3 linked regions of the Homo sapiens genome follow. The protein of the gene in region 2 interacts with the protein of the main gene of each other region in a biochemical or structural test. Each region holds a gene or a part of one and is shown on either strand. Other genes may lie near its edges.

Region 1 (2,734 bases), on a different chromosome or scaffold from region 2:
GTTAAAATCCCTTTTATTTTATAATAAATTATACAGGCAATCCTTGCTTTTTATTACCACACTGGATTGCTTCTGTACACAGCTAAGTTGCCTGAAGCATGGAAACTTGGACTTCTCCATCTGACACGTTCTGGAAGCCTCAAGGCACAAGCTGACAGTTCTGCTTCTACAGAAAAACTCTCACACTGCTCTCCTCTCAACAGTACTGCCTGTTCCCACTACTCCACATGACACCTACGAGGGCACTACATCACGTGAGGGAAGCTTCTTCATGAGGGCAGACAAGAGGAGGCACCACCCAGGCACTGGTCTCTGCCTGGCATCTATTCCGAGGGCCACCTGGCACAGTTTCTAAATTAAGGCATATCTAAAATGCTTTTCTACCTTTAGTTTTTATTTTTGCTATATTTTTGCACTCTACTATATGCATATTTAATAAAAACAACTACAAAGTCCTTTACTTTAATTCCTTTACATAATGATAAAACACCTAGATACCCAAAATACTACATCTATATATTCAAATCTACTAATCATGTTACAAATGCATGCAGCTTATTTGGGGGCTTAGTCTAATTTTTATTTTCTTAGGTCCATCAATACCATGATAATGAACATTAGATGCAAAATCCTAACACTTTCTGCCTTCAGTTGTACTTTCACAGGACTAGTGTGATTCAGAAATAAATAACATACATGAATAATAATAGAAATAATTTATGCAAATGTAGAACAACTTGAAAAAAAATCCCCCGCCTGTCAGGTGCTGTTCCTGGGGGTAGCTGATGCTATAAATTCCATGTACTAACTAATATATTTACTACAGGTAATAGGAAAACAAATGAATAAAAAGTGAGGAACTATGATATACATGTGTATATTTTTGCAAACACAGGATCAGAATGAAAAGATATATCATGCACTGTGAGGTTTAAGAAATGTATTACTGCTGGGATTTGTTTTATTATTCAGACTTTAAGATCAAACTGAGAGTTGTTGGTGATCACAGAAATATTGCTAGCTGATACATATTATTGCATTTCATAAAACTTAAGATTAGAAACTTTCAAGTAAGGGTACAACGGGTATCTTCAGAACTTTAACCTAAGCACATCAACGGAATTTTTCTAGGGACCACAGAGAGTTAGAAATTAAATAATTGTGTGGCTCTATGTGTGCTGATTAGTGCTACAGTCATAGTTCTTGGCAGTCAATATGTAGTTATATGCCCCCTTTGAGAAAAACCTACATTTGACAATCCAAACTCCTAAAATTGAGAAAGGGTTATTTGTGTGACCAAACAACTCACACGGAAGATTCCTCTCAACATGAAAATCCCCTGCTACATGAGATAATTTGTTTACATACCTTTAATTACCTAACAAAGAAAAAGAGAGAAAAGAAACTGGAAGCTAAAGAATTGAGAGCTTTTGCCAACTGAAGACGAAGCAGAAAATAAACTTTTCAAAACAAAACTTTTCCAGGCATATCTTTCACCATCACATATATAGAATGATGGAAAATAAAAAAATAAAAAAAAATTCCTGCAATTATACATCTTTTCTTTAAAAAAACAAAAACAAAAACAAAAACTGAGCTTAGCGCCTGAGAGATGCGGGGTAGACAGCTTCACACAGGGCAGCTGCTACCGCATCTCTTTTTACCCGAACTTTCGGAGAATTGTGTTGTACTTATTTATGCACAGAAGACACCCGTTTGCTACTAGGGACATTTTTCTTCCTAAGATTTGCAGAACAGATGCCTCTGAGACAGCAGCAGGGCACTCTGACCTCGGAAAGCAGCCCGCGGGGCCGCACATAATTTCAGGCACCGGCAGGTGAGTGGGAGGCGGGGCCCCAGCCCGGCCTCGCCCACTGCCTCTCTCCTGCCAAAGGGGCGGGGCAACGAGGCAGCGCGCCCGGAAGGCTTTCAAGTGGGAATCAAGTTTTGAGCACGAGCAAATGGGGTTCAGACTGGCCACTGTTATAACAAACCCTGGGGTGGAATTCGGCCTTTCGCATAGGGGCTTTAACTGGACTCTAGTTCCTGGGAGCAGAGGGGCGAATGAGGCGGGGGATTTCTCAGCCAGTTTCTGACTGCCCCTAGTGTATGTGGCATTTTGGTTCAGTATGAATTACTGAGACTCATCTGCTTGCCACTCAGGAGGAAAGTTGGGCAGGCACCGTCGAGTGTCTGCCACTCAAAAGGAATAAGCTGCTTTCTGTGGTGCTGTGCTAAGGAAACTGAAAAATACTGCAATATCCTTCCCTACTAAATTTCAAGTGACACTGCTGTGAGAAAGGTGACCTCTAAAATTAACTTAATCATTTGGGGTATAAGAAGTCTTTAAGTAGACTTGTAAATTTAAAAAAAGTATATAAAGTTGCCAAAAAACTTCAAAAGTTAAGTATGTAGACACACTCCTAAGTTGTTATGCTCATATACTTCAGACTTTTTTTTTTTAATTAGAGCTTCTTATGAATTTACATTTGTGATTCCACAAATGTTAAAATTACCTGGTCTTTTGGTATTTTAGGGCTCTGTTTCAATACAGCAATTTTTCAGACAAAAGTTTTGTCTACTGAATTACTGATGTGCTACTCATTTTGCTCACCTGATCTTTAAATTAGGATTTTAAAATTTAATCAATGTTGAAAGGCCACCATGCTAGGGAATTTGAAAGCAGCAGAGAGGGTATGTGTGTTTTAACTGGGGCCACTAAAGGAGTTTTATA
Region 2 (2,747 bases):
GTGGACCATAGCTGTATGGAGATGGAGGAGGACCTGGGGCTGTCCCAGAACTCTACACTCGCCCGACACTTATGGTCGGGACCCTTCCTGCCTCACGAGGTAGAAAGACACAAGGCCTCCTTTCCTGTTCTGCTTTCTACCTAAGCCCTGGGCAAATGGCCACAAGCAGTGCAGTCCTGACCAGATTCCTCTCTGAGCTCCTGCCTACCCCAAGGGACTTCACCCCTGAGTGCCCTCCCAGCTGTCTGTTCCACCTGGAAACATGAGAAGGTCACCCTCCCCCTCCTCGGCCAGTCAGTGATCCAGGGCCCTAGTGCTCAGGCTAGATCAGCAGGTGGGATTCCAAGGGAGGGCAGGGATGGGAGGCCCTGCACAGTGACCCCAGGCCTCACCCTGGACTCCAGGGGATAGCAGGTCTTCAGATGTGGGGGGCACACTCGATTGCGCTGCTGCAGCTCTGCAATGCGGTTCCAGTCATCCAGCTGCTCAGGCTCATCCTGGCAAGTGCCCATGTAGAAGCTGTTCCTTCCTGTGGAAGGCAGGGAAGTGGGAACAAATGAGCCTGGAGTCGGCAGGTCACCTCCTGGCCCTGGCATCTTGCCAGCCTTTGCTGCCACCTACCCCATAAACTTGAAGCCCAGCACACCAGTCTGATTCAGTGCCGCAGGTGCAGGAGTACGGCACACAGACTATTTCTATCCTAGGGGCTTGCTCACCACCTTCTCCCTGGAGAGGGCAGAAGAGGTCACACGCAGAGACTGCTACTACATCTTACTCACCTGCCAAGGCTTGGTGGCCAACACCCAGAGGAACAAATTAAGGACCGGGAATTAATTCCCAGGGGCTCCCTGGTGCCCAAAGGACAAGAGCTTCCAAGAAGAGTCTGGCCAGCCTGGCCTTTCCAGCAGCCCATCACCGCCTGAGAAGGGCATGGAGGACTCCCCACAGCTAAGTGTCACAATTGTGCTGGGAATCCCGGGCCCTTAACTCTGGCTAAGAGTGCCCCCAACACAGCCAGCCCCTAGATGGGCAGGTAAGGAAGGCCCTGAGGCTGCAGGAAGGAGGGGCAGGTGGAGCTGGATGGTAGCAAGGAGGCCAGCCTTGGATTTTTAAAAAGCTTTCCTCTTTTCCCTGTGCCACGATCCACCTTCCAGTCTAATTTTGGGGTATAGTAAGTCCCTGTAGTCCCCTCACCTGGAGGGGCCCCACTGGACACCCCGGCCTGGGAACGACGAGCAGAACTGCGAGTGGTGGGGCGGTAGCCAGGCAAGCTGAGCAGGGCTGAGTTGCCATAATCGGGAGAACCCAGGCGAGCTAGAGACTGAGTAGAGGAGGTGGCTCGCAGGCTAGCCTGGGAAGCAGGAGCAGACCGCGTGCTGTAGAACGATGAGTTGGCGCTGTCTGGCTCTTCCACATCTAGCTTCTGGAAGACAGAGTGAATCTGTTGCAGTGTACAGTCCCTGGCACTGTACAGAAGCTTCCCATTCCCTTCCGAAGCCCTCAGATCCCACGGCACATCCATGTATTCCCAACTGCTTTGCAAAGGTCCTTAAAGTGTGTGTCTGCAAGAAATGGGCCTTGTCGACAGAAGCCCTCACAAGGTGGTGCTGATGTTGTCAAGACTCTTCTACGCATTTTTTTCATGGAGTCTATTCATAATGCTTTGAGGTAGGGAATGCAGAGTGTTTATCGGCCCATTTTGGAGATGAAGTGCAAAGAAATAAAGTGACTAGCCCCAAATCACACTGCTAGGAAGTATCAGAGCTGGGGCTAGGCCCCATGTCTCCTGACTAGTCAGGCTCATCCCACAGCCTCTGCTGTCCCTCAGTCCAAACTTCCAGGGCCCTTACCATGTTCCAGAACTTCCCCAACTTCTTGGTAGCAGGGGGCACCCTAAACACACAGGTCCCCCCTGCTGTACCAGGGGCCCCTCTCCCCTCCTCCCAAACCTCCCCTTCAAGATGTGGAAACAAAGGCAAGGGCCTGTAGCCTGTCAGGCAGTCCACTGGGCAGCAACAATGCCTCTCAGCTGCATGGGGCATGCTGGGAGGCACAGGATGGGCTGCAGCTTCGCCACGTTCTCTCCCTTCACCCTGCACAGGCTCAGTGCTACGCATGGAGAGAATGCTAGCCTTAGTCAGGAGGCAGGGATCTAATCCTAGCCCTGCCTTTTTCTTCAGAAGTGCCCTTAACCAAGTCACTGCCCTTTTTAAGACCTCTCAGCTTTCCCACTGTAACATGGACTGGCTGCTCATCCCTCCCTGCTCCTGACTGAGTGCCCAGTGCAAAGATGCCCTTGAGAGGAAGTGGGAATTGCTGCCCTGCAGCCCCTGTCCCAGCAGCCTGACCTTGGTCATGGTGATGTTGATGATCTGCGTGGTGCGCCGACGAGCGGAGCGGGTCTTACGACCCGAGTCCAGGAAGACGTCTCCCAGGGAGTCCAGGCTGCTCTCCAGGGGGGCCTGACTCCGAGCAGGGATGGGAGTGAAGTAGAGACTCTCCAGGGATTCTACCTTGGGGGGCAGGCGCTGGGAGATAGGTGAGGCTGGTTCTCCAGGGACGCTGGTGCCGTCTGGCTGGGTACGAGGCAGCTTGCTATGGAAAGGAAACCTGCTGAGGTACAGTCCTTCACGCTAGAAGGCATTTTGTCCAGCCCTTTTTGAAAGTGACCATTTCCCATCCTTACTACAAGCAGATGAGGTCAAGCAGCCCATCTCTCTGATTTTTCAGAGGTACCAAGGAAAGCA
Region 3 (3,658 bases), on a different chromosome or scaffold from region 2:
TACAAAGGGGCCAGTCTGCAAGGACACATCCTGTAGATGGCTAATTGATGATGCCCTATTGTTTAGTGTGTGTGCACTGTGGTTTTATTTGCTTCGGTTCAAAGGGCCTAAACAATGCATTCGTTGGAATTTAGTAACTGCTGTAAAATCAGCACAGAGAACAATCTGTGAGCTGATATTTTTTGTACCCAAATCTGGTAATCTCTGCTTGACTAAAGAAAGCAAAATCTAAAATGACCTTTCAACTAACCATAGAAAAGGCCTTCCATTGAATCTCAAAGAGACTTATTTTTCTACCAAATATAAAAACATTCGAATTATGCATCATTTTCCATGATTCAAAGGAGACAGAGGTGCCTACGGGGCATGTTACTCATAGACAAGTCTATTCTAGTCTAATCACGTCCCCTTAAAAATCACCGAGTAGATGACACCGAGGATGAGAACGAGGTACTGTAATCATTACTTTAGAAACTTTATATTTTTACCTGTTTCAAGACAGAATTCTCCTAGAAAATCTGGAGCAACAAGCTTATTCCCCTTGGAGAGGAGATAACGAATAATGGACCACGCATTCGGAGAGAGGAAGTTTCCACTGGGAGCCCTTCCTGCATCAGTGCGTCTCTGGTTGGGCTGGCTATCTGTGTAGGAAGTGAACGCAGGAAGTATCTGTCTACAAACCCTTTATCCTCAAGGTAATTGCTGTAGCAGCATTTTACTGTTTACCAAAGCAGTAAACATGTGATCTAAAAAAAGATGTTTTCCATCTCCAGAAGAACAAGGCTTTAAAAAATGTATACATGTGCTTATTTTGTAACCAGCTTATCAAAATTGGTTACAATAGGCTTGGGCTTTCAACAGTGAGTCCATGAAAACAGCTCTTGGGATGGACAGAGGTACCCTCACAGGGATGCACAAGAAACAAAGAAGTGGCTTCCTTCACTAGAATGCTATCCTAGCAACACACATTTTATGTCTTTTCTCCTAAGACCGGCTTAACCGAGTTCATACTGTTTGGCTTACAAAGAAGGTAAAGTCAACAAAACTATCTATGTTAATTCAGGTTGGTAGAATGAGTAATTCACAAAGTCCAATAACTCATAAAAGTCACTTACATTTGGCCTTGGACAATATTCTTATTTTTACGTGACTATAAATATGCTTCCAGTTTAGGAGTTCACACAAGACAAAGTGAAAAGTTAGAACTCAAAAGGAGATGTGTAGTGGCTGCTTTTGCTGACTTTTGCCTGGCGTAGGCCAAGCCTCCTGGTCCGTCTTTTCCTTTGTTTCTTTATTCCAGATCAAGCTTGCAAACCTGCACCGTCCCAGATTTCCTGGGGTAAGAGAAGTGATTGTCTAGGAGAGGCAGCTTGGAATGAATAAAAACAGGTCCAGGAAGGATCCCTCAGCATTTAAGAGGCTCAGGAGGGGTCCCCCTCATCATCCTTGTTGTCTTTTGTGTTTTTCAAGCCGCCTTCCAGGTGGATAGCGATTGCAATGAGAGAGAAAGAGTATGGAAGGAGAATAAGAAGAATAGGGAGACACAGAAGTTAACAACGCCCTGAATGTCTCCTTCCAGGACCTGCTGTGCAGTGTCCGGTGAACTCACCAGCAAGCATTTCCCAGCCCTGTTTTAAGCAATCTCCAATGCAGATCAGGTGCTCGTGAATAATTGGGAGCTCACTGTGTCTGTCAGAGTTCTTACTTTATAATGAAGAGATAAAAACATGTTCATCACAGGAAAATGGACAAATTGGCTAATTGAAAACAAAATTCAATTCACAAACTGTTGTAGAAATTGAAAAAAAAAAGGTAGGGGGAAATGCTTTTCATAGATTCCCTGATTTTAGTCTTAGAAGAAAAATGTATTTGGCTTGAATGAATAGTAAAATTAACTAACTTTGATTGAGGAGCTTATGTGTGCCATATACAGTTCTGGGCTCTTGCGACTTGGTGAATCTCACTATAACCCTGTGAAGTAGGAACTATCACTCTACCCATTTCACCGATGGAAAAGCCTATCTCCTGTGAGGCTGTGGCTTGCCAAAGGTGAAATGGCCAGGAAGTAGAACAGCCAGGGAGTGAACCCCAAAAGCCAGGTGGGAGCCCATTTCCCCTGCCCACTGCACGAGACCCCTCCCCGGTTTGAAGATCCGATAGGGGCACTGCTGTTAGCTCCCCCTGCGTCCTGGCAGCAGCACAGTCAGCAGATGGTCACTGTGGAGAAGGCGGAGCTGACCACCTCCATTTTCCTATAAGGGAGCTAGGGCCAGGAGAGGTGCGTTCACCTGGGGAAGTCCTGCAGCATCAAACTAAAGCTCCGGGCCACCCTCTCCCAGATGGGCCTCTTTCCACTTCCCCTTGCCAGCAGCTATATCTATGCCTCCCATCCGTTGCACGGAAGATAAGGCCAATCCCTTTTCCACAGAGGCTATTTTAAGGATGCCACGAAGAAATACAGAGTACCAAGTGCCTCCCTGGGCCAAAGATAAAAGTGGGCTGTGCTCTCTGGATTCAACCTTCATGTTTTTGATGCTCTCTGGAAGGTCAGGGAAGGCACACATATCGTATGGATCCAAAGAGGACTACGCAATGCAAAACCACATACTTTTTTTTTCTTTTTAACTTGGAGCAATGTCTTGGGACATCTACCTCAAATTGAGACACAAACTAATTGTGTTGACAGATTCTAAAGTGTTGTTTCAACAGTTTCTTCTTCCTCAAAGGTGAGCATCATGTGCACACTGTCAAAATTAAAAAAAAAAAAAAAAAGACCCAATAAAACCCGATGAAACCCAAAGAGCATGGAGATGAGAAACTCACTGCTGGCTGACGATCTGAATGAATGGCCTTGGGGGGAATGTGAATGTGGAGGTAGCAGAAGGGTCCTGTCTTCAGTGCTGATTCTGTATCAATACTTGGTAAATTTAAAAAACAAAAAAACCAGCAAGGGAGATTTTAAATCATCAAGGCAGAAGGATTTAAAAAGTGGAATGTGTTAAATGCAAGAGTGCGGGATCTTTGCATAAAGTTATTATATTTTCAAAAATTCGACAAGCATTGTTTTTACCAAACGTGTTTAAAGTAACAGCCCTGAGGTTAATGTTATGATTGGATTCTGATGTGGCACTTTAAAAATAAATCATTTTGCTTGGCCTTAGCATTTCTTTTCAAAATGTCTCTGTACTTATCTGTGTACAACAGCAGATTACCGTTCTTCCCAGAGTTTAATTCCATGAACACCCTGCTGAAAGACTTGTTAAGGCCTTATGGAAAACTCTGACCTGCGTGTTCATTATTGACGCCCAAGACGAGTGCAAGGAAGTTGATACTTGGGATGAGGAAATTTAAATCAGCAGCTGATCTGGAATCTGGAAGCACTGCCCCTTGGATCTCGCCAAATATGGAAAGAATTCTTGTCACTGAGCAAATATAGAATTCAGTGCTAGAGTTTTACCTCTTGAATTTTCTAGAACTTTGTTTTGATTAGCCACCTAGAGTATAAGAATTGCTGCCTATGGGATTTTTCCCAGAAGAGTAGATAACATAAAGTAACCAGCGATAATAATTTTCATTATCCAATTATTTCATGTGTCTCCATAACACTTAATACATCATGTTTCTCTGCACAGTAATTCACTATGTACAGCTAGGGTGA

What was found.
Region 1: of the proteins of NUMA1 (region 2) and CDK6, one has a biochemical effect on the other in vitro, tested with the Homo sapiens proteins (one large-scale study listed by BioGRID and IntAct).
Region 3: the proteins of NUMA1 (region 2) and ERG form a complex in vitro, tested with the Homo sapiens proteins (one large-scale study listed by BioGRID).

The regions. Positions count from the first base shown.
Region 1 is NC_000007.14:92,606,980-92,609,713, forward strand, and holds part of CDK6 (cyclin-dependent kinase 6), read right to left. Parts: 3' UTR 1-2,734. UniProt on the Homo sapiens protein: Serine/threonine-protein kinase involved in the control of the cell cycle and differentiation; promotes G1/S transition. Phosphorylates pRB/RB1 and NPM1.
Region 2 is NC_000011.10:72,004,841-72,007,587, forward strand, and holds part of NUMA1 (nuclear mitotic apparatus protein 1), read right to left. Parts: exon of another isoform or gene 2,596-2,747; coding exon 2,349-2,595; exon of another isoform or gene 1,424-2,348; coding exon 1,195-1,423; exon of another isoform or gene 705-1,194; intron 530-704; coding exon 393-529; intron 1-392. UniProt on the Homo sapiens protein: Microtubule (MT)-binding protein that plays a role in the formation and maintenance of the spindle poles and the alignement and the segregation of chromosomes during mitotic cell division.
Region 3 is NC_000021.9:38,488,452-38,492,109, forward strand, and holds part of ERG (transcriptional regulator ERG), read right to left. Parts: intron 1-3,658. UniProt on the Homo sapiens protein: Transcriptional regulator. May participate in transcriptional regulation through the recruitment of SETDB1 histone methyltransferase and subsequent modification of local chromatin structure.